Linked DNA regions of Homo sapiens. The protein of the gene in region 1 purifies or fractionates together with the protein of each later gene. This does not show direct contact. Each region holds a gene or a part of one and is shown in the gene's direction. Other genes may lie near its edges.

Region 1 (8,342 bases):
CCTGCATTTTTAAATTTTAAGCTCACATTTGATATCAGAATCCTGAAGCCTAAATTAGGGATTCTTTTCTCCATGGGAACTATGTTTGCTTCTGTCAAGAGCCTAGGACTATTACTAACAAGGGAGCACTTTAACATCCTTTCAGAGTCCTGACTTAACTTGGTAAACTTCAGTTACTCCACCTTGCTGGGTAGTCCAGCCTTGATCTCTAGATTCTGTGTTAATGTGCTTCCTCTCTCTATCTTCTTCTCTCTATATACACATATATATTATATATATTCACATATATTATATATATAATGGCATTATATGTATTATATTTATATATTTTATGCCATTATATACTATATAATGGCATTGTATATATATATATATTTATGTATGTATATGTATTTATGTGTGTGTATATATATATATATATATATATATATATATATATAATGATGGCCATGCATACACACGCAAACACACACACACACACAAGCAATCCTCTCTCCTCATGATTGAGACTACAGGTGTGTGCTACTGTGCTGGGCTCCAGTTTCAATTTTTGAGAAGATCTGCTCAGTTCCAGCTAAACAACATTTTTCCTGGTATGCTGCTGTTTAGTTGGGTCAGATGTGGCCAATGAGAATAGGGTCCAGGCCAGGTGTGGTGGCTCATGCCTGTAATCCCAGCATTTTGGGAGGCTGTGGCAGGTGGATCACCTGAGGTCGGGAGTTGGAGACCGGCCTGGCTAACATGGAGAAACCCCACCTCTACTAAAAATACAAAATTAGCTCGGCATGGTGGCATGTGCCTGTAATCCCAGCTACTTGGGAAGCTATGCCAGGAGAATCGCTTGAACCTGGGAGGCGGAAGTTGCGGTGAGCCGAGATCATGCCATTGCATTCCAGCCTGGGCAATGAGAACAAAACTCCATCTCAAAAAAAAAAAAAAGAAAAAAAAAAGAATGGTGTCCAAATGCACACAGAATGTAATATCCAAATTAATTATCTACAGTTTCCTTAGCAAGGATTTGTAAGAAAAAAATAGAAGGAGGATAACTGGCATCGCAAATGAATGGCTTGGCTTGTTCTCTACAAGTGGTATATAAGTGTATCATTTAGAGTTCTTTCTGTGTAAGGAATAGAAAACTCAACTCAAACTGATTTCGGAAAAGTAATGTATTGGGTTACATACTGATAAGCCTAGAACAGCTGGCTTTAGGAGTAGCTGAGCCAGCCGGGCTCAGTGTAATCCTGGCTTTTGGGAGGCTGAGGTGGGAGAATCGCTGGAGCCTGGAAAGTTGAGGCTGCAGTGAGCCGTGATCATGCCACTGCACTCTAGCCGGGACAACAAAGGGAGACCCTATCTCAAATAACAACAGCAATAACAAACCAAAAAACAAACAAAATGAATGAATGAACCATTTTCTCAACTGATATTGTCAAAAATCTCTCACCCTGTCTTACTTCTGCTTTCTTCTGTGATTTCATTCTCATCCCCATCTATTCTAAGCTTAAATCCTCCTAAGCTTAAATTGAAAAAAAAAAATCAATTTAAATGAAAAATATAGAGACCCCTCCCCTTCTTTTTAGGATTATTCCTGAAAGGATGAAGCAGTATAATGTTCCAGAGCACGAACTCAGGAACCAGACTGGCTCACTTACTATTTTTGTAGCCTTTGATAGGTTAATTTTTGCAAGCCTTGGTTTCTTCATTTGTATCACAATAGTTCTTACTTCAGGGGGTTGTTATGAGGATTAAAGGAGTTGATATTTGCAAAATGCTTTAAACAGTGGCTAGTACCAAAAAAAAAAAAAAAAAAAAAAGGGAGGGGTGACTAAATCATCAGGTTTTGATTAGGTTGTAAGTTTACTCCTGTGTCCTAAGGGGGTCTGGTTAGAGTTGGGACTTCCTATCCAAAGTACATGGATCTGGAGTAGTGGAAGGATGGTTTCTTTTCTTTTTTTTTTTTTTAGACCGAGTTTTGCTCTTGTTGTCCAGGCTGGAGTGCAATGGCGCGATCTCGGCTCACTGCAACCTCTGCCTGCTGGGTTCAAGCGATTTTCCTGCCTCAGCCTCCTGAGCTGCTGGGATTACAGGTGCCTGCCACCACGCCCAGCTAATTTTTGTTATTTTTAGTAGAGACAGGGTTTCGCCATGTTGGCCAGGCTGGTCTCGAACTCCTGACCTCAGGTGATCCACCCGCCTCGGCCTCCTGAAGTGCTGGGATTACAGGTGTGAGCCACTGCACCTGGCTTTTTTTAGACAGAGTCTTGCTCTGTTGCCCAGGCTGGAGTGCAGTGGCGCAATCTCGCCTCACTGCAACCTCTGCCTCCCAGGTTCAAGCGATTCTCCTGCCTTGGCCTCCCAAGTAACTGGGACTACAGGCACACATCACCAAGCCCAGCTAATTTTTGTATTTTTAGTAGAGGCGGGGTTTCACCATGTTGGTCAGGCTGGTCTTGATCTCTTGACCTCGTGATCTGCCTGCCTCGGCCTCCCAAAGTGCTGGGATTACAGGCGTGAGCCACCGCACCCGGCCAAGATGGTTTCTTTTAAAAAATGTGGAGGGTTCATTACTAAAGGCAAGGGGAATGGATGCTGCATGAACATCAGCAACAAATTGTCTAAGGTAGGAAAGTTAGCAAATTGTTGCCTGAGGGCTCCCTTTATTACACAGTAAACACAAATTCATGTACAATGTTTCTAATAATAAAAAGGGACACAGATTAATCTGAGATTTCTGTTTATGCCTTTTGTTGTAAATAGGCACAAACTCTTGGGCGGCCATGGTGGCTCACAGCTTTGATCCCAGCACTTTGGGAGGTCCAGGTGGGCGGATTACCTGAGGTCAGGAGTTGGAGATCAACCTGGCCAACATGGTGAAACCCCATCTCTACTAAAAATACAAAAGTTAGCCAGGTATGGTGACCCACGCCTATAATCCCAGCTACTGGGGAGGCTGAGGCACAAGAATCGCTTGAACTGGGAGGCAGAGATTGCAGTGAGCCAAGATCACGTCACTGCACTCTAGCCTGGGAAACAGAGACACCTCCTCAAAAAACAAAAACAAAACAAAACAAAAAAAGAAACTCATTTTATTTACAAACAATAAATAGCATTATAGAGTAGCACTATAAAAACTATAAATTTGAATAGCACTTTACTGAACAAAGTACAAACATACATAAGTTAATTTCGTCTCCCAAGTAACTGGGACTACAAGCACTCGTCATCACGCACGGCCAAAGGTATTATTAACTTTAGTTAATGGTAAGGAAACCTAGCAAGCAGAAGTATAGAAGGATGTAAATTTTGCAGATGGTAGTAATTAGTGCTACTTTCTCATTTGTGCTCCCACTAAATTTTGTGTTCTATTGGTACTCATCATATGTTAATCATTTCTTTTCTTTTCTTTTCTTTTTTTTTGAGACAATGTCTCACTTTGTTGCCCAGGCTGGAGTGCAGTGGTGCCATCTCGGCTCACTGCAACCTCCGCCTCCAGGGTTCAAGCGATTCTCCTGCCTCAGCCTCCCGAGTAGCTGGGATTACAGGCGCCTGCCACCACGCCTAGTTTATTTTTGTATTTTCAGTAGAGACGGGGTTTTGCCATGTTGGCCAGGGTGGCCTCGAACTCCTAACCTCAGGTGATCCACCCGCCTCGGCCTCCCAAAGTGCTGGGGTTACAGGCGTGAGCCACCGCGCCCGGCCGGTAATCATTTCTGTCACTCAACAAATATTTATTGAGCGCTTGCTATGTACCAGGACCTGTTCTTGCACAAAACAGGCAATCCATGCATTGCTTACATTCACATTCTAGTGGGGGTAGTGACGGACCATAAAATCAGCAAGAAAAATGTATGTTATGATAGATGGTTATGAGTGCTTTAGAGTAAAATTAAGTAGGGGAGGCAGGCAGGAAGTGTGTAGTATGTTTCAATTTTATATTAGGCTGGTCATGGTTTGTCATCTATTTCACCTGGCTCACAGTTCTTGCAGGACAGGAACAAATCTCACTTCCATTTGCCTTCATACTTCCAGCACTTAACACAGCACCAGGAACTCAGGGAGGCAATAACTTTATACTGAATCCGTTTTATGCCTTCCTAGAGGCAAGCAGTTGAGAAAGGCGTGTAACTAGATATTGCCTATAAGGTCCACAATTGGAATAACGTAATCATTTATGATTAATTTTATTCATTTCCATTAACTTAAGCTAAGTTCTTTTAGCACGTTTAGATTACAGAACGAAAGCTGTGTTAACTAGTATTACAGGACTTTTCACGTTTTTCCAAACATCTTCTAGCCACCTCTTTGGCCCTACAACTACGCATAAGCTTTTGCTTTTCAAAAAACCTCCACAGCCTTTGCCAATTATTTGTTGATCTCGAGTAGTTGTTATAACAGCACTTGGGGTTTAACACTAAGGTTGCAGATCGCGCCCAGTTATCAGTTCCTCGAACCTCAAGGAATCACAAAGCAAGGTTCCACCCCCCGAAAAACTACGAAAAGTGAGAAAGCCTCTAACACTCCTCGCGCCGTGCCCAGCCGGAACCTTGACCTCAAGATGGCGTCCCGTAGTCGTAAGATTCAGTCGGCTCCAATCAAACATGGTGGGTCATAATTTACAGTTCGGGCCTTTCTAGTAACCGCTAGACGCTGCTTCTCTATGGTTATTCGTCTCGGCTTGGTGAGTCAGAGCCAACAGCGGAGACGATCTATATACGTTCTTCTCTATGGTTCCGCGCTCCCCGCCCCCGGCCGCAGTGCACGCCGGGCAAGAGGAAGACCTCCATCAGCTCGCCGCGCAGCGCGGCTGTATTTGCGGCCTGTGCGAGTAGGCGCTTGGGCACTCAGTCTCCCTGGCGAGCGACGGGCAGAAATCTCGAACCAGTGGAGCGCACTCGTAACCTGGATCCCAGAAGGTCGCGAAGGCAGTACCGTTTCCTCAGCGGCGGGTGAGTTTGTGTCTCTGAACGCGTGTGGAAACCGGGAGACCGGGTGCCTCAGCTGGTGGAGGAGGAAAAGCCGGGGTGGCTGCGAAAGCGCCAGGGTGGGGTAGAGGTAAGGGGGAGCGCGGAGGCGGGGGTGGGGGAGGGGTCGGCACGAGGCTTGGTTTCTTCTCTTCTCTAAGGCCTGGAAAAGCTGTGGGCCCAGCCGTAGCTGGTGGAGGCCAGACCTACGGCTTGAGCTTTCCGTCTTGCATTGTCGCCCACTTTCCCTTTCCCTTCCACGTTCCGCCGCGGAGTGAATCGTCTCTGCCCCCCCTGGGCTCCACGTTAGATACAAAACGATCGATCTGCCCCAGGGGAGCCCTTCCCTGAGCCCCCTTACTTACCGGAGCCCCACAGTAGGTTTTCGGGCCTGGGACACTCTCGCCCCAGCCGTTGCCTTGAAGTTAGCCTCTACCCACCCTTTTTAGCGAGGTGCTGGCCACCAACGGATATCTTTCCCTTCCTCTTTGGCCATCTAGAGCCCGCCACCAAGTGAACTGGGCCCCACCCCCTTGGAATTGAGCTAATACCTACCTTTTTAGCAGTCTCCTGGCTTGCTTAAGATAGTCATGAATTTTGCCATCCTGCCTCTTTTGCGCATTGGAGGGTGCAGTAAACTGTATATCGCCATTCATTCTAGGCGATTACTAAGCTCCACATTAAAATGTTACTTTCTCATTTTTCTTTGGTCGTCAATCCTGCTTTTAAATACGGTTTTCCGGAATAGACGTAGGACTATGAAGATTTTTCGGAGGTTATGTAATATGGATTTGTATTGCCATGGAAATGCCATTTTGATACTGGGCAGAGTGGAGCCAAGAGAAGGGAAGAGATTGGACCTCTGTTGCACCCTACTGCTGTATTAGTGTGAAGTACTCTGTGTATTAGGCCGTGGGCAGTAATGTATAAATAATTTTTGTATAGTCTTTGGAGCTTTTAATTTTTTTAAAGGCTATTTCCAAAAACATTCAGAGGACTTGAAAGGGATTAAGTTGGTCATAAGTTACTCATGATTCAAGTGAATCTTATAGTATTCTAATTCATTTAACTTAAAGCCTTGGTTTTTCTTTTTCTTTTTTCTTTTAAGCTTTGGTTTTTGTTCCTCTGTAAAATGAATTTATAGTAGTATCTATACGTTATTGGGGTTGGGGATTGAGAAAAACGTATGTAAAATCCTTCGTGCAGTATCCAGGTAACACACATAAGCATTTAAATCTATATTGACATAATTTGTTATTTAAGGATTTTCAATGAAATGTAAGAGTCCAACCCTGACTCTGTAATTTTTTTTTTTGTTTTGTGTTGTTGTTTTTTTTAAGACGGAGTCTTGCTGTGTTGCCCAGGCTGGAGTGCGGTGGCGCGATCTTGGCCACTGCAACCTCCGCCTCCCAGGTTCAAGCGATTCGCCTGCCTCAGCCTCCTGAGTAGCTGGGACTACAGGCGCGCGCCACCACGCCCGGCTAATTTTTGTAGTTTTAATAGAGGCGAGGTTTCACTATGTTGGCCAGAATGGTCTCGATTTCCTGACCTCGTGATCCGCCCGCCTAGGCCCCAAAGCGCTGGGATTACAGGCGTGAGCCACCGTGCCCGGCCTTCTGAATGTATTTTTAAAGTAAAACTAGTCCATGTTAACATTGGGTAACTACTTCAGACCTAACAGGAATTTGGAATTTTCAAGTTATGTTTTTGTCCACAGACAAATTAGCAGTTTACTTTTCTTATTTACACATGATTTAGTGAAAATTTACATTATTTTATAGCTTTGGAAGCAAAGGAATCATTTATCAATCTTAACATCTTGCTAAAACAGTCTGTATTTTAGAGATCTCTTGATTGACTTTTCAAACACTATCACTGCCATTCACAAAAGGGGATTTTTGATTCTTCTTAAATAGCTTTTCTACCTTTTTTTGAAAATTGAAAGTTGCTGAAACTAGAAGAACAAAATTCCACTACCCAGAATTATTGGTATTGGCTTTTAACTTTTTATTTAGACATAATTTCAGATTTACAAAAAAAGTTGCAAGAATAGTACAAAAGAAATCTCAGCTATCTTTCACCAGATTCCTCAAATGTTAACATTTTGCCAATTTGCTTTATCCTTCTCTTCATAGGTTTCTTCTGAAATGTTTTGCTAGTAAGTTGCAGATGTGATGCCCCTTAACCCATAAATACTTAAGTGTATTTTCTAAAAATTAGGACTAGTCTTACCTAACAACAGTACGACAATCAAAATCAGGAAACTAACACTGATAAAATACCTAATCTACAGTTCTTAAATAGATTTTGCCGATTTTTCTGAGTTGGTGTACTTTTTTTTTTTTTTCCTTTTTGGAGATGGAGTCTCGCTCTGTCACCCAGGCTGGAGTGTAGTGGCGCGATCTCACCTCACTGTAACCTCCGCCTCCCGGGTTCAAGCAATTCTCTTGCCTCATCCTCCATAGAAGCTGGAATTATAGGTGCCTGCCACCATGCCTGGCTAATTTTTGTATTTTTAGTAGAGACGGGGTTTGACCATGTTGTCCAGGCTGGTCTTGGAACTTCTGACCTCAGGTGATCCACCCGCCTTGGCCTCCCAAAGTGTTGGGATTGCGTGAGCCACCGCACTTGGCCAATATGCCTTTTTTAAAATGGCAGCTATATGAACTATATTGACATAGAAAATTCACCTGTAAGTGCACAATTCAATGATTTTTGGTAAATATACAAAGTTATGCATCCATTACCCCAAAAGGATTCCTTCTGTCTGTTTGCAAGTCACCCTGTTCCACCCCAGTTTCAGGCAAGCCCTCATTTTTCTGTATAGATAGTAGTAGATAGCGCTGCTTTTTTGTTTTATTTGGTTTTTGAGATGGGGTCTCTTTCACCCAGGTGGAGGGCAGTGCTGCGATCTTGGCTCACTGCAACTTCCGCATTTCAGGCTTAAGCAATCCTCCCACCCCAGCCTCCCAAGTAGCTGGGACCACAGGTGCACGCCACCATGCCTGGCTATTTTTTTGTATTTTTGGTAGAGATGGGGTTTCACCATGTTGCCCAGGCGGGTCTGGAACTCAGGCTCAAAGGATCCACCTGCCTCGTCCTCCCAAAGTGCTGGGATTACAGGTATGAGCCACTGTGCCCAGCCTTGTTTTTGTTTTTAAAAAGATGAATTCTTCCTGTGTTGCTCAGGCTGGAGTGCAGTGGCTATTCACAGGCGTAATCCCACTATTGATCAGTTTGGGAGTTTTGCCCTTCTCTGTTGGCAACCTGGTGGTTCTCTCTCATCCCAGGAGGTCACCATATTAATGCTGAATGGACTTAGCATGAACACCTGATCAGTAGCGTGCTGCAGCCCAGAACTCCAGGGCTCAAGTGATCCTC
Region 2 (7,848 bases), on another chromosome or scaffold:
CAGCTCATGGTTGTCCAAGTGTCTGGGAGAGATGAACTCAGCCCTGCTGTCTATTAGAGGCTCCAGTCCAGTTAGTACCTTGGCAGCTTCACAACAATATCCAGAGGGCTCAGTGGTGTGGTGCCCTTCTCCATCCAGAATGGAGTCACTTTCGTGAATAAATAGGGCTCCTGGCTCTAGCTGAATTATTTTTAAGTTAGATCATAGGCAGTAGTACCACCTAGAAGTCAAAAAGTTGGCCATGCTTGAGTTATATCATTGTAAAGCAGACTTTTTGTAAGTGTGAGAAAAATGTGAAGCTTTAAAAACCCCTCTGTACAAAAAGGTTTCCACCCTAGTTAATAATATCATAACATAGTAATTTGTTCCTAATGTATTAAGTCAACAGATATTTATTGAACATTTAGGTGCTATATTACTCAACTGGAGTAAATTACTTTACTCCCAAGAAGTAGATGTCTGAAGGGGATAGGAGTGAACATGTCAAATAATAAACTTGACTGAGTTTAGATTTCAAAGATGCTAGTAGAGGAGCTAAATTGTAAAAGGAAACACTTGGAGTCACCATTGACACCCACCCTATTGTATAATATAGCCTTTGCCAACCTATGATACGAATTGGAAAGTTAATAACCATTTCTGGAATGAACATTTTCATGTTAATAGCCTTCTGAGGCTAACTATAATTTTGCCAATTAAAACTTTTTTTTTTTTTTTAAAGAAAACCAGCAAAAAATAAAAGTGCCATCTCCTTGGTGCTGTGTTCATTTAAGAATCAGCGTTCCAGGCTAGACTTTATAGTCTGATTAAAACCAAAACTGTTACTAGGTTTTAAAAGTTAAATTTTTTTCTTTAAAATGATGAGTCAGCTTTGGTATAATTCAATTTTTGTAAACTGTTTTAACTACATAGGTAGAGCTTATAGGTATATCTATAATAAAAGCATTTTACTTCTTTGGGAGGATGCTGGCTGTTTTTGTGTCTTTTTGTAAGCTTTTTGGCATTTGTCTTGATTGTCCTCTATGTGACCTTGAGCAGAGGTTTCTGTAGATGTTGATTCTTGCTGTTTTGTCTTTGCAGTGTCAGATGTTTGTTTCAGTGGTTGTTGAGGTAAAACTGTATTGATTTTGTGTCCTCGGTTGCTTTTTGTTCTGCAGACACGTGCTCCCGAGTCAGAAGGGCCTTGCACTGGAGCCAGGGATGCTGTTAAGGTTCTCCCCTTTTTCCATGTTAACACCATTGCCTCACGTTTCTCATTGCCCTCACGTTTGCCCCGCTTCCCTTTCAGTCAGCCATCATAATCATCTTTGTTTTTCTCCATGACATGAATCTGCCATCGGTTAATTTGGGTTTCCGTTGTTTTTATTTATTCATATATTTTTGTTTTCCCTCATCCATCTTTTTTTGTACAGAGTTCACATGAGACTCTGAATATAGTGGAGGAGAAGAAGCGGGCAGAGGTTGGGAAAGACGAAAGAGTAATCACAGAAGAAATGAATGGTAAAGAGATATCACCTGGGAGTGGTCCTGGGGAGATTCGTAAGGTGGAGCCTGTGACACAAAAAGACTCCACCTCCCTGTCTTCTGAGAGCAGCAGCAGCAGCAGTGAGAGTGAGGAGGAAGACGTGGGAGAGTACCGTCCCCACCACCGAGTGACCGAGGGCACCATCAGGGAGGAACAGGAGTATGAAGAAGAGGTGGAGGAAGAACCCCGCCCGGCAGCCAAGGTAGTAGAGAGGGAGGAAGCAGTGCCCGAAGCCAGCCCAGTCACACAAGCAGGTGCCAGTGTAATCACAGTAGAAACAGTGATCCAGGAAAATGTAGGTGCCCAAAAGATACCCGGAGAGAAGAGTGTACACGAAGGCGCTCTTAAGCAAGACATGGGAGAAGAAGCAGAGGAAGAGCCACAGAAAGTTAACGGAGAGGTGTCCCATGTTGACATTGATGTTTTGCCACAAATTATTTGTTGTTCAGAGGTAAATGGGAGTCCCAGGTGGGAGCCAAACTCTAGAGCTGCTTCTCAGATGGGGAACTCCTGCCTTTCTTCTCCTGTCCTCCCAGTTCTTCAGCTTTTTTCAACAAGAATCTGATTTTTCTCTCTCATGGGAGGAAGGGGGAAGCACTGCTTTGTGGATTTTCTGCCCGCCCAGTTCATGGGTTCCAGCTTCTCTGCGGCCACTGGACACCTGTAGGGTAAACTTTCCTAGAAGCACCACATCAATTTTTCCTTCCCTTTTCACATTTAAATTTTTCTTTGCATGTTTTGGGTGTTTTCAACTGTTTTGTCTTCAGTTGCACTGCTTCCTCACACTAAATGCCTTTTTTTCCCCTTTTGGTTTAATTAGAAAAATGTATATGTAATGTTGAAAAAAAAAATGGTCACTGCTGAGTGTGTGTGCCCCTGATGTCATGATTGGGTTTGACTTCTTGGCTCATTCTTCAGCTTCAGAGTTTTAGAAATGACAGCAGTCTCTGATTACCGTGGTTCTCTGAATGCAGTATCCAGCAGTGATGAGAATGTTATTTCTTGAATGCCACTGTGATTTCTGTTTTGGGATTGCAGGGGTTGTATGGTTTTGTTAAGAGCCTTTCTTTTCTTCCAGGCAGCCAGAGGCTAGGCTATTTGATAGGAGGATATCCTCGCTTCTCATTCTATCCTGATGTCAATTCTGGAGTATTTGCCAGATGATTATATGTTTTGTGGATTATCTATACATTGGACATGAATCTTTTTCTTTTCAAAGAAGAGAACTTTTTGGTCACTAAGTGCAGTGTCTCTCATTTGGGAGTTAGGCTGAGGGAGGGTTTATTTCCTTGGGAATATTTCTTGATTTTAATATTAAATGCCCACAGTACAGAGATTTATTTTGTTCTCTTCGATGGGATGGAAAATGTTGAAGTGACTTTGTCTTAAAATAATTAAGTGGATTTTAACCATGTTACTTTTAAACTTCTGTTTCACTTTAGAGAAGATTTTTCAAGAGTCTTTGAACACTTTGAACTATTCTGTATTTAACATATCGTTACTCCTCTTTAAATAATTATGCCTGTTGAGAATGTTCTCTCAAAGAAAGTACTGCAGTATTTTGGTAGTAGTATAGTCTGGTGTTGCATTAATATTAAGCATGCATACTCGGCAGACTAAAATGTTAATAAGCCGTTGAATATTTCCTTTAATGTTTTAAATTGTTCAAAGCATTGGTGTAACATTGATGGAGTAATTTTAGATAGAGCATTTTAACTTAGGTAATACAGAAGAAACACTGCAAATTTTAGACAGGTATAACTGAAAACAGTAATACTTGAAGACATCCTTTCTGAAAATGGTGTGTCTGTTAACAATAAGGCAGAAAAGGTATTGTGGGCAGAAGAACAAATCTTAGCCTACCTAGCTGGCATGCCAGTTAAAGGCAGTGAGCCTTCACACAAACTATGTGGTCCTTTAAATTATAATAAAAATAGAGACAAGTCACTTCACATAGTTCATTCTATTTTCTTTTCAATTTATTATTACTTGCCCAAAGCTAAGGAGGGAGGAGGAGAGAGAGAGAGAGAGAGAGAGAGAGTGTGTGTGTGTGTGTGTGTGTGTGTGTGTGTGTGTCACTATACACTAGGCTTGACATAAAAGTAGTTTGGGACCATCTTAATTTAAAGAGTAACATAATTTAGGAAGCCATCATGTCAACTTATTTTTCATATATGTGTATGTACACATACACACATTCATATATATGTACGTATCTATGTGCACATGTATGTATGTGTATATATGATATATTTGAAGGAAAATTTTTCTTTTATTTCTTTTGTTTGTTTTAGGTTGTTTGCTTTTACTCTTTTCTTTTGTGCATGAGTGTGTGTTTGGATATGTTTCTTACTATTATTTGTGAAGGTTCCATTAAACACTTTTACTTTATTACCTCTAGAATTTATTTTTCCCTTCCTTTTCCACCTCAGCCACCAGTGGTAAAAACAGAGATGGTAACAATTTCTGATGCCTCACAAAGGACAGAAATCTCCACCAAGGAAGTCCCCATTGTCCAAACTGAGACCAAAACCATCACATATGAGTCTCCACAGGTACAAAAGCTCTAGACTTGGACTGTTCGAGCTCTTTTTTCCCTTAGTGTATCTATGTTTTCATTCTTTCTTCTCTTAGTTTACATGTTTCTGGCTTTGATGTAGCTTTTTGTATCTGCACTTTGTAAGTGTACTTCAACAACATAATTTGCTATGTTCTCTTAGATTGAGACAGAGAGCTGCAATTAAATTGGTAACCCAGTAATTATAGGGGAACTGTACATATGATTATTTAGGACAGACAGTATCAATCTTGTTCATATGATTGAAAGCCATTTCTGAGTTGACATATCTAAGAATGTTTGTGTACACTTAGGAAACAAATTGTCTTGCAAAGTTTATCTGATATAATTCATCGATTAATAATAATCCGATCTAATTGTGGATGTGATTTAGGCTTCTTTCCCTCTCTAACTCCGTGAAGATTGACCCAATCAACTCATTCTTGCTTGTAATAACACACATACACACACACACACACACAAACACACACAGGCACACACACCTGTGCTTCTCCTTCGTGTGGAATTATTTTCTAAAGACCTATGTAGTCATTCATATGTGAATGGTGATACCATGTGTCTAAATAATTATCAGATTTGTGTGTTTGATTTTAGGTTTTCACACATTGGTTCTGTAAAGATTTGGAATAAGCATTAAGATGTTTAACCTTAAGAATAACAAAAAAAGATAAAGCATTCATGATTTCAAAATAGAATATAAAATAAATATTTTCTCCACTTAGAAGATGAACCTTCTGTGGTAGAATTGTATCATGGTGGAGGATGTCAGGTTATTGACCTCTCAGAATATTTTTTAAAAGGTTTAATGCATGCATGTGTGAAACACATCTGAAAATTATTTTGGATATGGCATCCTTGTGTGTGCCTTGATCCCACATAAGCACAAATAGGTTTCTTATGAACAGCTTGGCGGGGGAGCATTAGTGATGTGTCTGTGCTGTGATAAGTTGCCAGAATGAAGACATACAGGTGCATGACCCAAGTTTGAAAGAGATTTCCTCTTACAGTCAGAAAGGCTCTGGACCGTCCAGTTATTTCCTCGTGTCAGTGTCAGGAAACAGAGGGCAAATATGTTTCGTGATCTTAACATAAACTGTTAGGCTATTAATTTGCTTCATTGATTCCCCTTGGAAACTCTAGAATCTTCTGCATCTTTCAATATCAAAGCAAACAAGTTAAAATCTATTTTAACATATGTATGGGATTTATATATATGTAGGAGCACATGCGTATGTGCAGTATTGAAATATATGTGCCCGTATATATGCTCACAACATGCAAACTATTACAGGAACAATGTAGTTGATGAAAACAATCGCTAGAGGTAAGCAGATAACCAAATCATGCAGATTCAGTTTGTCCTGGTCAGGTTCTGTTGCTTGGTAATTTGATAAAATGTTTATCTATTTTTACCCACCTGTGCTTAAAAAACAACAAACTCAGCGCTTCTGGTCACTGTGGAAACTTCTCTGCCTGGCTCTCTAGTTTCATTTTCTAGCTTGTGCAAAAGTCCTTCAGACAAATTCTGTCATAATTCCCTTGTAGCTTTCAGTCCCACCTACTATGTCCATTCTCCTCTCTTTTCTCCACTCACACAGTTGAGTTTGCTTCTCCATGTGCACCTAGCCTTTTGCCTCTACTCGGTTTCAAATACCAGCCGCTCTCCTGGATGGTAATTACTACTGCAAACACGCAAACCACATGGATTTTAAAAGATGCATATTCGATGGGGCGGGGATCTTCTCTGACAACATAACAGAAGTTAAGCATTACTTTGTATTTTTCCCCCAACTATCCAAAGATTGATGGCGGGGCTGGTGGTGATTCGGGCACGTTACTGACCGCACAAACCATCACATCTGAGTCCGTGTCAACAACGACAACCACACACATCACCAAGGTAAAGCAATGCAGGGGATCATATGGAGAGGATGGTACATTACAGACAGAATCTTTTCTGAATTGTTTCTCTCTTCCTGTACACACTTCCAAGTAAGATACAGACAGTGCCAGCGGAATCAAAATGCCTTGGTTTAAAGTATCCAAGAAATTAGGCTCCATTGACAAATGCATTCAAGCCAAATTGCAATTTTGTGAAGTACAAGGGGGTAAAAATATGTTACGAATAGCTATATGTAAGATAGCTACAAAACCATAAATAATTTAATAAAATTTATAATTTATAAAAACAAACTTGTGCTTCTACTTTTATTAAACCAGCCCTCCTGACTAAAGCGAATGAATGAAGGCCATCATTCAGAATTTTCAGCAAGTTGTTCAAATAATGTAGAATTTCCCTCATTTAAGATCGCTAGTATACTGATTTGGGGCATTCCCCTGTTCCTCCCTGCATAATTCTCTAAATGTTTAGCACTGGGTAACCAGTCATCCCTGGATCAGCAGCATCAGCTTCACCCGGGGCATTGTTAGAAGTATAAATAGCGTGGCCCCACTCCAGTCCTCCTGAAACCTTAGAATTGTCTTAAGAAGCTTCCAGTGATTCTGATGCATGCTGAAGTCATCAGCTTTCTAACTCCAGCCTTATTTTCCACTATTTCCTTCTTCTGTTTTTTACTTTGGATAAGTGTCTAAAGGTCTTAAAGGTGTCCCTTGTGCCCTTCCCAACCCATGTTTCAACAACAATTTAAAAAACAGCAAAAGTAATTTGTAAATTTAAAAATGCCGCATAAATGCAAGGTACTGTTGGTGCTCATTTTAAAGCATATCCAGTTATTAAGCATAGTGATAAGCCTGGTTTGTTATGGTAAAATGCTGTCACTTGTGACTGAGAGTGTACATTTATCAGAGTTGTAAATGTTGGATGTGCGCTTTCCCAGGACCGTGTGGTATTTGCTTATTGACTGTTTAGAAGGTCACAGCCAGATGATCTCCTCAGCCTCATCCAGTGTGCCCCAGGCACTCGCAGCTTGTACGGAGCCCATAACGCTGTGAGGCAGTTCCCCCAGGAGCTCCCTCCTCCAGCCCCGCTCGCAGCCTTTGTCTAGCCATGCGCCATGTCTACGTGTATGACTACTTACGCAGGGTGTCATCAAATCAAACATTCAACAAAAATCTCATCCATCTTCCGTATCTGAAACCAAAGCAAATCCTTTTTAAAATTATTGCACTAAATGCAATAAACAAAATCAGCAAATAAATTTGTATGCTCAGAATCCATCAGTCAAAACCATCACATCATACAGAAGTCTTCTGTGATGGGAAAAAAATATATATCACATCAAACAGTTTCTCAAACCAAAAACAGATACCTAAATTCTTATAATTTCTTGTAATTCTGCAAGTAACTGATTTCTCCCTACTCTCCTTTTTAAAAATTGGCCAGCTAGGAGTAAAGAAACTCGGGAAACTATAACAGAATTCCCTTAAAGGAACTACTTGGATTAAATAATATCTGTCCTATCTTAATCAAGTGAGATTAAGATGGGACAGATGCCATCTTGAATATTGATAAATGAGTTTTAAGGTTGCTCTCAGCTGAGGGATACTTGTGGATGCTATAACTTTAGTAATAGGATTCTCTATTGAGCCTAAAAATAAAGCACAAAGTGTTTCTAGAATATCAGTCTTTTGCTGCTTGTTGTGTGTGGCCTTACAATGATCCACAGGTCTAGGTGGACTCCCATCTCTGTTTGCTCTGACTGTGTAAACGTGCTTCAGTGATTGCTGTTTTTTCTTCTTCTCCTTTATGACCTTTAGACTGTAAAAGGTGGAATTTCTGAAACAA
Region 3 (7,437 bases), on another chromosome or scaffold:
GTATCCCTGGCCTGTTCTCCCCATCTCCCCTGCCCTCTGCTCACCAGTTCCCTAAATGTATCTTGATCTCACTAGCCCTACAGACTGTGCACAGAGCTGTTTCTACCTCCAGTGACATGCTTCCGCCCAGGCTTCTCCCCCTCCCGCCTCAATCTTCCCCTCACCAACTTAAGGTCTTAGGGGCCCTTCTAGGAGGCAGTCCCCAACTTCCAGAGCCAGGGTATAGGCTACTTCTATGTGTCCCATGGTACTGCCACAGAAGAGTCTCAGCTCTCTCCAGGATTCAGTTCTAAGGTCAGTGCCTAAGATAAAAATGGAGTGTAATTAAAATTCCTCTTAGAAATCTAAGGAAGGTGCCCTATTGAAGACCAACATCTTGAGGTCCCATGTAGTCATTTCTTGCCCATGTGGGAACACATTACTGTTTGGTTGAGTACCAGGTGAAGTGATTGGCCTGCAGTTAGGGCTGTGTTGTGCAAAAATCACTTGTTTTGGGGTGTTAGAACCACATTTAGGCGAGAAGATCACTTTTGGGGAGCTTGGGAACTGAGGCAGGCCGCAGGTGCAGCAGAGGCATGAGCTTGCCCGGGCCCGCCCTCTTGTCTATGCTCATGGAGTGAAGGAGGGGCCAGCGGAATGGCCCAAACAACTGATTTGTTTTTCTTTTTTTAAATCTTTTTCAGACAAATACCATTGTGTTTAAGCGAAATGTGTGTATAATGCCAAATCACTGTACCCCACAACCCTGCACACCTCTACACTGGACTGTAATTTCTTGTTCCTAGTTTGTCTTGCTAGACTGTAAGCTCCGTGAGAGCAGGGACCGTGTCTGCTTGTTGAGTGGGCTTTCCCCTGTGCCTGCCAGCATGCCTGGCATCTAGCAGGTCTTCTGTAAAGATGGGATGAGTTTGTAAACCCTCCAGCCTCAGGAGTGGCTCCATCCTCTGAGGCTCTGGGGCCCTCTGGCAGGCTAGTCATTTTTCTGCCATGTACGTACAATGCTTTATTTTCATGTTGTATTTTCCTTTCTAGCCAGTAAGCAAGCTCCTAATGAGCAAGTTTCTTTGTGGTGTTATCTCTGTATCCTTTCATCAGGCCAGCCCAGAGTAAGTAGTGCTTCGAAAGTGTTTGGTAAATGAATGAATTATGGTAACCCAGCCCAGTTCTGGCATCACTGTCTGCAGGTTAGTCTAATTCCAGATGAAAGCCCCAGATTCGAAAAAGGGAAGATTATTCAGAAGTGCATATGGTTGTATAAGAAAAAAAAATCTCATTAAATAGACCTGAGTAAACTTCAAATTTTGATGATCTGGCCATGTCGGAGCTGAAGCTTACCAGCTCTCTAAAGCATTTGCTAGGGAATCATGCAGATGGTCCAAAATATTTTTTAGAAAAGCATTCATCTGTCCCGGGATAGAAGTAGAGGAAGCTGGTAGGCAGGCGCTAGACCCTAAAGAAGGACTGCTGAGCCAGTTCTTAAGCCTGTGGTCCTGTCGGTGAGGAAAGTGAGAGCAGTCCAGAGCAGGTGAAAAGAGCAGAGCTCATTCCTCCAGTGGCTCTTTTGCCTAAAGCAGCATTCCTCAAACTTCTCACTCGAAGCATTAAGTTACGGTGAGATGCTAACACACGCTTTAGACTTAAGTCAAAATTTACTGTGAAGCCACAGCAAACCATGGCTTCACAGATGAATTAGTTGCTACACAAATAAGTTCGATACATAAGTACAGTAATTGCTTTTAAACCTTATAATAAGCAGTAAATTAGAAGTTAAACCATGTTTTTCTTTTACGAACTGAAAGAAGAGAATGCTTTTGATACTGAGAATCGCACACTGTGTCCAGGAAGATTGTTCTTGCATAACCAGACCCACAATAAATATCTACAACTTTTCTTACATGTTTATAAAATAAATCTTAGAAGAAAAATATTGTAGCTTTTTTTTTTTTTTTTTTTTCAATGAAGCTCTATGAACATTTCACAGAACTTTGTTCCTGGGAGTAGTTAGGGAAATGCTGCTTCAAAAAGCCAATTTTAAGTAGTTGTGAGGCATCCGAGTGGAATTTGGCTGCACTATCCATAAAACTTGAGAGTATAGGCGGTATTTCACCTACCAAGGTCAGTACCCTGCCTCAGGATTCTTACTGTTCATTTGAGCAATTCCGGGGCCCTCTCTGGATGACCAGGTTCGTAAATAGTTGAGACTTTGTGTTATCTCAAATTGTCACCATCACCTCTGGGCCAATATAGGTTAGTGAGGTCGAGAGGCCCACACCATTGACAGAAGAGAATTCTCAGGCCGGGCTTGGTGGCTCACGCCTGTAATCCCAGCACTTTGGGAGGCCGAGGCGGGTGGATCACCTGAGGTCAGGAGTTCAAGAGCAGCCTGGCCAACATGTTGGAACCCCGTCTCTACTAGAAATACAAAAATTAGCTGGGCGTGGTGGTGGGTACCTGTAGTCCCAGCTACTTGGGAGGCTGAGACAGGAGAATTACTTGAACCCGGGAGGCAGAGGTTGCAGTGAGGTGAGATCGCGCCACTGCGCTCCAGCCTGGGCGACAGAGCGAGACTCCGTCTCAAAAAAAAAAGAAAGGATTCTCACCTTCCTGTCCCTTCCTAGGAGTTTTGTGGTAGTGTTCGATCCTGTGATGTGGCCATCTTCTCCTCAGGGCCTGTGAGAGGCAGGCAGCATCTTTAGCTGAGGTAGAATGCCTGTTGGGGAAAGTCAAATAGGATGGTGGCTGGGGCCGGGGCTCTGGGGACTCCTTCTGCCCCACATACTCAATTGGAAAGACTGAGCAAGTCCCCTCACCTCCCTGGGCCTCAGCTTCCCTGTCTGTCAAATGGAGGGCTCAACTGGGGTGAGCTCCAGTTTCCTTCTAGTGCTAACGCGTGTTCAAGGATCCTTGCTCTCCTTTCCGGGGAGCATCAGGGGTGTGGGCTAGATAGCAGGAAAGAAGTAGGGGTTTGTAAACAAGAGATCCAAGCCCCTGGACCCTTGGTCCCAGCACCCAGTGCAGCCCTCGCCCTCCCAGCCCCTTCCTTAGAAAGGACAAGAAAATCCACTCCTTGTTCTCTCCCTGTCCCATCACCCCCGCAGTCCCCCACAGATCTGAGGCCGGAGGATGCCAACATGGTGAGCACCCTCTTGCTGTCTTATTCACGTAGGCTTTTCTTGGTGCCTGCACATGGCTCTTGTAAGGCCACCAATCTTGCTGGATTATGACCTCATCTAACCTTAATTACTTCCTAAAAGCCATATGTCCAAGAAGAGCCACATTGGGGGTTAGGGCTTCAACATATGAATTTGGAGGACATTTACAGTTCAGTCCACAGCACCTGGTCATGTGGAGATCCCAGTCTGCATTTGTGGGATGAAATCTCTGCTTTTTTAAAGTTTACACACCACCTAGCTGGGCACGTGGCTCACACCTGTAGTCTCAGCACTTTGGGAGGCCGAGGCGGGGATCACCTGATGTCAGGAGTTCGAGACCAGCCTGGCCAACATGGTGAAACCCCGTCTCTACTAAAAATACAAAAATTAGCCGGGTGTGGTGGCGGGCACCTGTAGTCCCAGCTACTCGGGAGGCTGAGGCAGGAGAATCGCTTGAACCCAGGAGGCAGAGGTTGCAGTAAGCTGAGATTGTGCCACTGCACTCCAGTCTGGATGAAAGAGCAAGACTCCATCTCAAAAACAAAAATAAAAAAAGTCTACACACCAAAAGAGCTGAAGGCAGGAGAGTTTGTGGTGGTTCAGAGTCCTGATTCTGGAGGAAACAGGCCTGTTTGGAGTCCCAGCTCTGCTCCTTACTAGCTATGTGGCCTCTCAGAGGCAGCATCCTTATCTGAGAAATCGGGTTGACCTTGTAGGTGGCTGAGAGGCTCAGATGAGGGCTCGCATGTGAGGCCTTGGCACTGAGCAGGGCACTCCTACCGAGTGTTCAAAGGTCGTGAGTACCACTGCTCTGCAGCCCTGGGCTCTGGTCTCAGCAATGCCGTCACTCTTTCTGGCTTCCTAAGAGTCAGAAGGCAAGTGGGAGAATAGAACCATTTCCTGTGTCTGAAGGCTGTGCCTCAGTGCTTTTGACTCACTCTGAAGACAGCAGGCAGCCCTTTCTGTTTTTTTTGGAGATGAAGTCTTGCTCTTGTCGCCCAGGCTGGAGTGCAATGGCGCAGTCTCGGCTCACTGCACCCTCCGCCTCCCAGGTTCAAGCAATTCTCCCACCATAGCCTCCCGAAGCTGGGGCTACAGGCACACGCTGCCACGCCTGGCTAATTTTTTGTGTTTTTAGTAAAGACAGGGTTTCACCATGTTGCCCAGGCTGGTCTCAAACTCCTGAACTCAGGCGATCCGCCTACCTCGGCTTCCCAAAGTGCTGGGATTACAGGTGTCAGCTACCACGCCCGACCCACAGGCAGCCCTTTCACCTCACGCCGAGCACGTCTCCTCCATCCATGAACATTTTGCAACTTTTTTTTAAAGAGACAGGTTCATACTATGTTGTCTAGATTGGACTCAAACTCCTGGGCTCAAGCTTTCCCAAGTAGCTTGAACCTCTTAAGTAACTGTGACTACAAGTGCACCTGGCCACTTTTTCTGAGACGGAGTCTCGCTCTGTCACCCAAGTGGAGTGCAGTGGCATGATCTCCGCCCACTGCGAGCTCCGCCTCCTGGGTTCACGCCATTCTCCTGCCTCACCCTCCTGAGTAGCTGGGACTACAGGCACCCGCCACCACGCCTGGCTAATTTTTTTTGTATTTTTAGTAGAGACCGGGTTTCACCGTGTTAGCCAGGATGGTCTCGATCTCCTGACTTTGTGATCCGCCCGCCTCGGCCTCCCAAAGTGCTGGGATTACAGGCGTGAGCCACCGCGCCTGGCCCACCTGCCCATTTTTTAAAAACTTTATTCTTCCTGGTATCAAGGGGAGAAAGAAAAAAATTTTTTAAAATATTTAAAACTTTATTTTGAAATAATTTCAAAATCACAGCAGTTTGAAGGGTACAACAAAGAACATTTTGCCACATTTTCTCTTTCATTCGTTCCCTCCTCTTCTCCCTCACCCCTGTTTCTTCCTATCCTCTCTGAACCATGAACCATTTGAGGATTATTTGTATACATCATGCTCGTTTATCCGTAAGATGTTTTAGTGAACATTTCCCAAGAACAGGGACAGCCTCTCACATGCCCATGGTACAGTTCTCAAATTCAGGAAATGTGTAATATTCTCTGATCAGCCCAGGAGTTGCTAATTTGTAGTTCCTGTTTCAAATTTGCCAACTGTCCCAATAATGATTTTGAAAGCCGTTGTTTTTCTGGTCCAGGATCCAATCCAGGATCAAGCGCTGCCTTTAGTTGTCCTCTCTGCAGCCTCCTTTCGTTTGGAGCAGGTCCTCAGCCTTTCTGTCTTTCATGACATTGATGTTTGTGAAGAGTACAGTCCAGTTTCTGTTGTAGAACGTCCTTGAAGTTGGTCCCGGAATATTTGTTTAAAGTGAGTTGGGAAACCACATTCACATGTCTTTTGGTTATGTGTGTATTTGTCAAACAGCCAGCCTTGTGCTGCGTGCTGTGATGGGGAGCATTACTCAACAGAGCCTGGCCCTGACCTTGGGGATGTAGTTTGGGTTTGTGGGGAAAGCAGCTACCGCCAGGTGGGCTTTACGGACCCCTGTGTGTCTCATGACTAGAGGCACTGACGCTTGGATAAATACATACTGGATGGATGCAGGATGAGTCCGCATTCTAGAAGTGTGCAGAGGTACAGAAGTGGCCCTGCTCCCTGTCCAGCACCCAGTCATCAGCTTTCCCTGGCTTCCCGAGGCACCCTGACGTTCACACTCCAAACACAAAGTCTTCTCTCAGGAATCTCGAGTGAGCTGCAGTCTGGGTTCTAGCCCTGCCCTAGCAGGGATCTGCTCAGTGACTGGGCTGCTCTCTTCCTGCTTTAGGCCAATGCGGGGGAGAGGAGACCACTGTGACTCTCCCCAGTGCCCTTGGAGCGCAGAATGAAGTGAGGGGAGGAGGAGGGTCACGAGCCCTGGAGCGCTGGGAAGACAGGCTGTAGGCCGCAGGCCCCGATCCTGCCTGGGACGAGGTTCAACAGAAGTAGGATGGTTTCATCATGACCTGGCAGGAAAACCACCAGACCTGGAATTTTGCTTTTACAACTGTTTAACTTCTGTTTCATACAGGATGGAAACCGGTGAATTGTAATCTCACATAACCGAGCAAGATCTAGTAGTCATAAGCACTTTGTCAGAGCAAAGCAGACAAGGCAAAGTGTTGGAAATGTCATCGGATCTTCACAGAACCTTAGCCAAGCAGCCTTTCAATGCGAGAAACAAAATAACATGGATTTTTATCTAGTAATGAAGTCAACACCATTGTCCACCCTGGGTTAACACATTCACATCTCAAAGCGAATGGGGCTGCAGACACTCGTGTTAGAGAGCCTTGGAATGTCCTGCCTTTTTACGTTTAATTAAAATTAAATAAAATATACAAAATTCAGTTCATCAGTTGTTCTAGTGGCATTTTAAGGGTTTAGTACCATATGTGGCTCATGAGTACCATCCTGGACAGCGTCGACCTAGAGCAGTTCCATCCCCGCGCAGAGTTCTGTTTGACGGCGCCACTCTGCACTTCCAGCAGCCTGGGGAGCAGGGGTGCAGGAGAGTTCCTTCTGTGTCACAGACTTGGTCACACAGTACAGATCTCAGATCAGCACTTAAACACGACTGCCAGCTGTCAACGGCGTGTTCTGTGGAATGCTGGGATGCATCACAGGTATGCTGGAAGATGTATAGAATTTTACTTCTGTTATTCTGGTAACTCAGAGTCCTGTTCAGTCAGTTTCCACGTCAGGTTGCTGTCCTGGTTTTAAAGAGAATGAACGCAGCCGAAGTTGAATCGAGGCAGTGATTTCACTCAGTGCGTTGGGTCTTTCCACTCACCTGGCCCTCCAGAACCCCAGGGCCTTGAGTGCATGGGCTGGTACAAGAGCCCAGTTTTTGGCTGGGGAGGCACTTCCTATGGGAGGGGGACGCCTGTCTCAGTGCTGAGGCAACCACCACCGAGGACCCTGGGCTGGAAGCTGGGCTGAGATGTCTGGTGGTAGGTTCTGAGGCAGGACAGGGGACCGACTCAAATGGATGATACGAACGGCAGGCTGGATTCACGTTGCTCCTGCACCTCCAGCATCTGCTGAGGACACCTAGAACTGTGGCCCTGGCCAAACCTCAGCTCCCTATTCCATGAAAGTGTGGGTCAAAGTGTGGGTGGTAGAGTGGGGCTGACAGTGGCCCCTAAGCTCCTAGGGTCCAGCCCACAACTGAGGAAGCCACACGGCTGGTTGTGTACGAGCCGGAGTGTCTCTGTTTGGTTGAAAGTGCCGGTCTGTGGGTCCTTGCTGGTGTGTGTGCTTCTGTCCCCGCCTCC
Region 4 (8,078 bases), on another chromosome or scaffold:
AAGAATGGGAAGATAAAGTTGAGGAAATCTCCCAGAAAATAAAGTAAAAAAGATGCAAAGCTAGAGAGAAAAATAAGAAATTAGAAGGACCAGTTCAACAGGTCCATTGTCCAAGTAATAGGAGTTCCAAAAAGGAAAGAATAGAGAAAATAGGAAGAAATCACCAATAGGATGATTCAAGATTATTCCCCAAAAGTGAGGGGCACTGAGTGCCCAGCACAATGGAAGATAATAGCCACTCACCAAGACATATCACTGCAATTTCAGAACATTGGAAACAAGAAGTTCAGAGAGGGGAAAAGTCACCTAGAAAGGACAAGGAATTAAAAGGCTTCAGACTTCTCATTCTCCACAGCAGTGTCAGAAGCTAGAAGACCATGTAGCAATGCCTTCATAATTCTGAAGGAATTCATTACCCAGCCAAACAACCAATCCAAGGGTCACAGTTGAAAAATGACAACAGCAAAAACGCAAAGTTCCAAAATAATTTACTGCTCCCTTTCTCAGGAAGCTTCTGGATGATGGTCTCCTCAAAAAAGCGGGAGTATTATAAATCAAGAAAAACACAGGCACAGGTGGGGATCAGAAGCCGGTTGGTGTGTGAGGGGGTTTTCTCGCTCTAGGGAGATTATTCAAGCAATCACTGTGTCAACAAATACAGATGTTTCCCTTCATATGATGAAAATCTAGGGATCCAAACTTATTTGAAAAGCTAAAGAGGCACCATTCATCCCCACTGGAATGGCAGGTTTTGCAGCAATTGTTGCATATGTATTATACAAACTGAAGAGCAGGGGAAATACTAAAATGTTGCATCATCTGATCCACATGTGTGTGGCAGCCCAAGGCTTTGTTGAAGGAGCAATGACTGTTGGTATGGGCTATCATTCCATGTATCGGGAATTCTGGGCAAAACCTACACCGTAGAAGAAATGCTATCTTGGTTTTGTTGGAGGAGCTTACTTTAGTTAGACATCTCTTTTTTTTTTTTTTTTTTTTTTTTTTGAGATGGAGTCTTGCTCTGTTGCCCAAGCTAGAGTGCAGTGGCACAATCTTGCTCACTGCAACCTCTGCCTCTCGAGTTCAAGTGACTCTCCTGCCTCAGCCTCCTGAGTAGCTAGGATTACAGGTGATCGCCACCACGCCCAGCTAATTTTTGTATTTTTTTTTTAGTAGAGACGGGGTTTCACCATATTAGCCAGGTTGGTCTTGTACTCCTAACCTCAAGTGATCCACCCACCTCGGCCTCCCAAAGTGCTGGGATTACAGGCATGAGCCACCGCGTCCACATCTCATTATTGAAGCTACATATTAATGATTAAAATAAACTATTTGAGTGGGTTCAGCTGATAACACGGCATTGTGAATACTGGCCTTCTTTCTTGCAGGCTTGATTTGCCTGGTGACTGAATTACTAGTGACTAGTTTACTAACTAGGTCATTCAGGGGAGTCAAATTAACACAAAAGAAACATGTCACCTAAAAGATGGTGTTGAAATGTCCACCTTCTTAAACTGTTAGGATAAAATTAGTTCTAAAGAAGATAGCAAACCAACCCTGAAGTACTCCTAGTTTGCTGCAGAATCTTGCATGTTTTGGATGTTATATGAGTTCTATTTGCCCCAGTTAATTTAACTTTTTTCTGCCTGTCTTGTGGACTGGCTGGCTCTTTTAGAACTCTGTCAAAAAAGTGCATGGAGGCTGGGCGCGGTGGCTCACACCTGTAATCTCAGCACTTTGAGAGGCCAAGGCAGGTGGATCACGAGGTCAGGAGATTGAGACCATCCTGGCTAACACAATGAAACCCCATCTCTACTAAAAATACAAAAAAAAAAAAGTGCATGGAATATAACTTGTAAAACCTCCCACAGCTGAAAGTATATATGTGTATGTGTTTAAATCAAATCTAGGAAGCTTACAATAGAGCTGCATAGTAGTAGCATTTATTAAAGAATCATAACTGTAAACATGAGAATAACTTATGAATTCTAGTTTAGTTCTTTTGTAATTGTAGATATCTGTATTTGCTGCTGTAATATAAGGATAATTTTTAAATGTCATCTTGAAACAGAAACATGTATTTCAAGCACTCATGGAAGGTAACTGAAGAACACTTTTTAAATGGAGAAAATGTTATTTTCTCCGTAAGAATTGTAAACGTTAAACATATTACCTATAATGGAATTAATGATTTATAAGCAAGCTGGTTTGAACAGACATTATACACATGCTTTTCTATACTACAGAATGCCATTACACTTGTGAAATTCTCTTGTCTAACCTGAATTTACATTCCATGGTGATAACATGGTATATGTATTGTTATAAAAATAAGTGACCATGTCAAAAAAATAAAAAAAGAAAAGAAAAGCATAGAATATGGCAAATAAAAATCCCACAGAAGAGTGAGGCAGCCAGGCAAAGTGACTCACGCCTGTAATCCCAACACTTTGCCAGGTCGAGGCAGGCAGATCACTTGAGCTCAGGAGTTCAAGTCCAGCCTGGCCAGCATGGTGAAACCCCATCTCTACTAAAAATACAAAAATTCGCCGGGTGTGGTGGCGCATGCCTGGAGTCCCAGATACTTGGGAGGCTGAGGCAGGAGGATAGCTTGAACCCGGGTGGTAGAGGTTCAGTGAGCCACTGCACTCCAGCCTGGGCAACAAGAGCGAGACTCTGTCTCAAAACAAAACAACAACAACAAAAGAATGAGGCAAAGAACATGCCCAGGAGAATGAGAAAAGAGATGCCAGGTTGCCAGATGTGCAGCAAGGTGAGGGGATGAACAGTCAGATTGGAGAAGGTCAGCAGTCTCCAGCAGTGATGTCTTCAAGAAGATGAAATGGAGAGAATTCTCTGCTATATCTAGATATTCTGAGAGGAAATTTAAGCAACTGGGGGAAGAATTTGAGGTAGAGTTTGTGAGAAATACATAGAAAATAAATGATTTTAAAAAACAAGATTATTAATTCCAGGAAAAATAAAAGTTTGTGCAGGAAAAAACAGAAGGTCTCCCTGGGGAGGACAGACCCAAGGAGGAAGCTGGGCAGGGAATTCCAGGGTCCTAGGTATTCAGAATATGGTCTAATCCTGGGCAAGTGTGCTTTGCATGGGCAAATCCCCTTGGACCCCTTGCCCTGTGGGGAGGGCTGCAGCTGGGGGAAGGCCGGAGATGTGAAGGTAAATGCCAGAAGAAACAGCTAAAAGAGGTGAAAACGTTGCCTCCAGAGAGGGGAAGACGATGGGGGCAGGGCTCTGCTGTTTGTCTTAACAAATCTGGTACAATTATTCGATTCTATATGTGTGTACATGTTCTAAGAAATATTTCATTAAAGAAAAGAAAAGCATTTAAAAAATAAAAATGCAATTCATGAAAGTTCACGGAACCTCTGGACCACTTCTGCTATACTTAGAGATCTCAATAATAGTTTGAAAATCGCCCCAGCTGCGCTGGCATCGCGGCAGCCCCCGGGGGAAGGTGGGAGCGGTGGAGAGGCCGCCGGTGGTCCGTCCTCCTCCCCCCGCCCGCCCCCTCCATTCCCCTCTCCTGCCGCGGCGGCGGCTGCGGGCCGCGCGCCAGTCTCCTCACCCCACCTCCCCCAAAAGTTTGAAAACCACAGGACCCAGCGTGGGCAGTACAGGGAGACGTCGTCTCCAAAAAGTTACAAAATTAGCCGGGCGTTGTGGCACACGCCTGTAGTCCCAGCTACTCGGAGGCTGAGGGAGAAGGACCGGTTGAGACCAGGAGGCTGAGGCTGCAGTGAACCCTGATTGTGCCACTGCACTCCAGCCTGGGTGACAGATCAATACGCTGCCTCAAATAAGAAAAGAAAACCGCAGAGCTGGGCCTTCATTTGAGACCATGTGGGTATCATTTTGATTAAACCACAAAGCATTTTCTCTCTACAGCAGCCCACAAGGGTGAATCCCACTTCCTTTTCCTCCCAGGTGTCACCTCTAACTCTTCGTGTCAGGAGTTTTTCTACCTCTCCGGAGTTCTTTGGCTCTCAGGAACCTAGCACGGCATCACGCGAGTCCCGGCTCAGGTGAGGGGGGAATAAAGGGAACAGGAAGCGCCTTTTGCGGGGCTTTGCAGGCTGGCGGTCAGCGCCTTTCTGCACCCGTGTGCCTGGGGCCTGTCACTCTCCAGCCCCAAGGCCTTCAGCGCATTCCCCGCAGAGCTCCAGGTTACAGTTTCCTCAGCCGCACAGCAAGCATGTACCTCACATTTTTAACTTCTGTCAAAGAGTGGGCCCTGCTCTCATGAGTTCAGCGCTCAGTGGGAGCCAGGTCCCAAAAGTGAACTTCAGGGTCACGCGAGAAGCACGTGTACGCCCCACAAGGGCGTGATTTCGGGGATTTGTCTTTTTTTTTTTTTTTTTCCAAGCTGCTGTGTGCTCAGTCCCTGAGACAGACCCTGCCACCTCACAGGTGCTCAACAAATAGTTCTGGAGTTAACTAACTTAAAAGTACTGTAAAAGAGCTACACAGCAAATTAAATTCGCTGTGCAGCGCAAAGGCACCCTACACACTGCGTGAACGCTTCGGCTCCTGGAGCGCCGGCGACTGCGAAGCCAGGACGCAGGCAGCGGGGAGAGGCAGAGGCGCCGGCCCCCGACCGTCAGTCAGAGGCGGGAGCAGGCGTGCCCCGCCCCCCGGGGGGCGGACCCGGGACGCGGCGGCGCGGGGGCGGGGCCTGGTTCTCCGTGCCGGGGGGGCGGGGCCGGGACCGAACACACCGGGCCGGTTGGGGCCCCGCTCGCCGGCGGGAGCCACCGGAGCCCCGGCCACGAAGGGGTGCGACCCCCCGCCGGCCCCGCCCTCCCGGCTGCGGCCTGGCCAATCAGAGCGGCTCTTACTGGCGGGTGGGCTGAGCCGGCCCAGCTGCTCGGAGGCTCTGGCATGGTAACATCCCCGCGCGGGGGTGGAGGGGCTCGGGGCGGTCCCACAGCGCCCCCTGCGGCCCGGGCCGTGGCCGATGGGGCGGGGAGGCCGCTGGGGATAGCTGGGACCCCGGGGAGGGCGAGGGAGGCCAAGGGTGAGGGAAGAGAGCCCGGGAGGGGGGATGGGGGCGGGGACTGGGGGCGAAGGGGCGGGGGAGGCCATGATGGAGCCTGGCCGGGGGCGAAAGGTGCGAGAGTGGCGGGACTGGGTGAAGAGTGGGATTGGGAGAGGTGGGGGTGGGTTCGCGGAGAAAGATCGGGAAAGAAGAGAGAGGGCGGAGATGAGGGGACTGAGGGGACCAGGGGACAGGTGGGGACCAGTTTCCCCTCCTGGGATATTTGGTGTGCGACATGCCCTTCCCCCAGCCCCAGCGCCCGTTCCCTTTGGAAGCCTGGGTGCTCCTCAGACCACTTGGGGACTCCCTGCTTCACCTTCCTGCATTTGCAAGAGCTTGTCTCCTGAGGTGGAGAGGGGGCCTCTGAAGAAAGGGGCTCCCAGCCCAGGCCATCAACAAACTAACGACTCTGTGTGACCTTGGGCAAGTCACTACCTTTCTTTGGGCCTCAGATTTCCCATCAATTTTTTTAAAAAGGAAATGCATGAAAATTAAATCCCAGATCTCTTCCAGGGTCTAAATGAATAGGTTTTTGAGGAGGAAGTTTAGGAGAATGGGTTTGGTAGGGAAGCAAAGGAAAGGATGAAGATGGAGGCGAGGCCTTGGGCTGGGGCTGGAGAAATCCCCACGGGTGCGGGGGGATGGTAGACAGAAAGCCTGCCGGGCTGGGGCTGGCTAGCCTTATCCTGTTGGAGGGATGGAAGAACTCTAAGGAGAGGAGGAGGTTGAAACCTAACTCCACAATGATGGAGACCAAAAGTAACATTCGCTTCTTCAGAGGGAGAGTGATGAGATGGCAGGATCAGAAAGAAGCAACAGGGGCCGGGCGCGGTGGCTCATGCCTGTAATCCCAGCACTTTGGGAGGCCGAGGCGGGCGAATCACCTGAGGTCAGGAGTTGGAGACCAGCCTGACCAACATGGAGAAACCCTGTCTTTACTAAAAATACAAAATTAGGCGTGGTGGCCCATGCCTGTAATCCCAGCTACTCTGGAGGCTGAGGCAGAAGAATCACTTGAACCCGGGAGGCAGAGGTTGTGGTGAGCTGAGATCGCGCCATTGCACTCCAGTCTGGGCAACAAGAGCGAAGCTCTGTCTCAAAAAAAAAAAAAAAAAGCAACAGGAAGATACTTTCTAGTAAGGCAGATCTTTGGGGAGCAAGAGGAAGAGTAGGGCTGGTCCAGGAAAGTTGGAAACTAGGATGGTCTTTGAAACGGAAGGGCAGGTGCTGTTTGGGGCAGCTGAAGAAGGGCCGCAGGTAGATCACAGGGTAACCAGCTGGTCTCTCAGCCTTTTTTTTGATGATGGCTACCACTTTCTGAGAGATGTGCCTCCCAGCCTTCATCTTCAGGAAGTGGGAATGAGTCAGACCAAGCAGACCTTGGGAACACCTGGCTCGCTGAGGATTTCTGGATTGTGTAAGGATTGGGGTTAAAAAAGAAAAAAGGAAATGTATCTGAATGTAAGCAGTATCATCTGTGGCGCCATCATCCTTGCTGGGAGGCAGCTTTGTGAACTGGTTGAAAGCACAGGCTTTGGAGTCAGACTGCTTGGATTCCAAACCTGCCTCTCCCATTTAATGTCTTGGAACCTTGGTCAGGTTACTTAATCTCTGAACCTCAGTTTCTTTATCTGTAAAATGGGAATAATAACCTCTGAGATGGTTGCCAGGATTAAATGAGTGTTTGACACAGTATCTGGCTCATAATAAGTGCTCAGTAAATATTAGCTATTAGCTGTTATCATTCCCTCTTTCTGTTTTTTTTCCTACTGCCTCTCCATTCTTGTCCTTTTCTCCTTTTATTCTTCTGAGTGCTAAGTTCTGAGATGCCCCTTAGATGTGAAGTCCCAGAAGTATTGATTGCATCTTTGGTGGTGGGAAAGGGGTGGCCCCTCACTGGCCCAGGTGAACATATGATGATCAGATGATCAAGTGTCTCTTCATCATCTCTCAGCCCACAAATGTGTTTTTGTTCCAGGGAAGACACAGGATCTGCTTCTCTTTCAGCAACCATTTCTATATCCTTCCCTGTCACTAGTTAATGTCTTCATATTCTCACCCAGAAATAAAATAAGACCCAAAGTTTTATGGCACTGCAGCAGGTAGGAGAGGGACGGGGTGTTTCAGGAAAGCAGGGACACAACACGGGAAGCTCAGCGAAGGAAGGGCTTTGGAAGTTCTGTAGTAGTTTATGTTTATTCCATTGTTCTGTCCTCTGTGGGGAACTGTCCAGAATAGGCCAGTGTCTGAATCCTGGCCAGAGGTCTTCATCCCAAGTTGAAGATGACTGTATACAGTTAGCTTTATTAGGTTTTCTCATGCCAACATTTCAATCCAATTTCCTTTTTCCAAGCCACAAAGACTTCTGCCAAGCTACCTCTCTCTGTCACAGCCTGTATGTCAGAGAATTTATACAGATGTACATATGCACACGTGTATACACTGTTTTCAAAGTGCATTTTAGGATATTCCAGTATGCAAAAATCTAATAAGGTTAGAGATGAGACTGCATTTTATCACAGCACTTTGTGTGCAGGGCCCTGACTAAACACTTGGGGGAGGTATAAAAGGAGAAAACTCAATCCCTGAATGTAGGGAAATCCCCACATGAGTGGGAGACAAGCAGTCCCACATGAAACACCCAGCAAACATTCACAGAGTAGCATGTCACTCTGCAAAGTAGTGCATCATTTATCCTGAAGGGACACAGGTAGGAGTGTGTGTATGTGTGTGGGATAGTCATAAGGGTAACCTGAAGGAGGTGAATATTGGATCATCTTGAACAAAGCATGAGACTGTAGAATAAAAGAAATGTGTTTCACTTGAGGGTAATCTAACAATTCTGTGCAAAGAGAGGAGGAGGGAAGCCATTGAGTCAGGATGAGCAAAGAAGAGTGTGGGGCGGCCTTCGTTGCAAGGCTTTGACTGTTAGATGAAAGATTTTGTAGGGTAGGCAATCGGGAACCGGTAAGTTCTCAATAAAACGTTGAATCATTGGTGATTTAACCACTTAGGTTGC

Evidence for each region.
Region 2: the proteins of RBM25 (region 1) and EPB41L2 purify together in Homo sapiens (affinity purification with mass spectrometry; 2 studies listed by BioGRID, with this or other methods). This does not show direct contact.
Region 3: the proteins of RBM25 (region 1) and NCBP3 purify together in Homo sapiens (co-immunoprecipitation; 2 studies listed by IntAct, with this or other methods). This does not show direct contact.
Region 4: the proteins of RBM25 (region 1) and PRPF40B purify together in Homo sapiens (affinity purification with mass spectrometry; 3 studies listed by BioGRID and IntAct, with this or other methods). This does not show direct contact.

What each region holds. Positions count from the first base shown.
Region 1 is NC_000014.9:73,053,760-73,062,101, forward strand, and holds the start of RBM25 (RNA-binding protein 25), read left to right. Parts: upstream 1-4,774; 5' UTR 4,775-4,946; exon of another isoform or gene 4,947-5,025; intron 5,026-5,326; exon of another isoform or gene 5,327-5,476; intron 5,477-5,516; exon of another isoform or gene 5,517-5,694; intron 5,695-8,342. UniProt on the Homo sapiens protein: RNA-binding protein that acts as a regulator of alternative pre-mRNA splicing. Involved in apoptotic cell death through the regulation of the apoptotic factor BCL2L1 isoform expression.
Region 2 is NC_000006.12:130,863,691-130,871,538, reverse strand, and holds part of EPB41L2 (band 4.1-like protein 2), read left to right. Parts: intron 1-1,157; coding exon of another isoform or gene 1,158-1,211; intron 1,212-1,412; coding exon 1,413-1,976; intron 1,977-3,957; coding exon 3,958-4,080; intron 4,081-5,904; coding exon 5,905-6,003; intron 6,004-7,820; coding exon 7,821-7,848. UniProt on the Homo sapiens protein: Required for dynein-dynactin complex and NUMA1 recruitment at the mitotic cell cortex during anaphase.
Region 3 is NC_000017.11:3,801,236-3,808,672, reverse strand, and holds the end of NCBP3 (nuclear cap-binding protein subunit 3), read left to right. Parts: 3' UTR 1-6,515; downstream 6,516-7,437. UniProt on the Homo sapiens protein: Associates with NCBP1/CBP80 to form an alternative cap-binding complex (CBC) which plays a key role in mRNA export. NCBP3 serves as adapter protein linking the capped RNAs (m7GpppG-capped RNA) to NCBP1/CBP80.
Region 4 is NC_000012.12:49,618,689-49,626,766, forward strand, and holds the start of PRPF40B (pre-mRNA-processing factor 40 homolog B), read left to right. Parts: upstream 1-4,872; 5' UTR 4,873-4,902; coding exon 4,903-4,905; exon of another isoform or gene 4,906-5,104; coding exon of another isoform or gene 5,105-5,131; exon of another isoform or gene 5,132-5,482; intron 5,483-6,130; exon of another isoform or gene 6,131-6,259; coding exon of another isoform or gene 6,260-6,476; intron 6,477-8,078. UniProt on the Homo sapiens protein: May be involved in pre-mRNA splicing.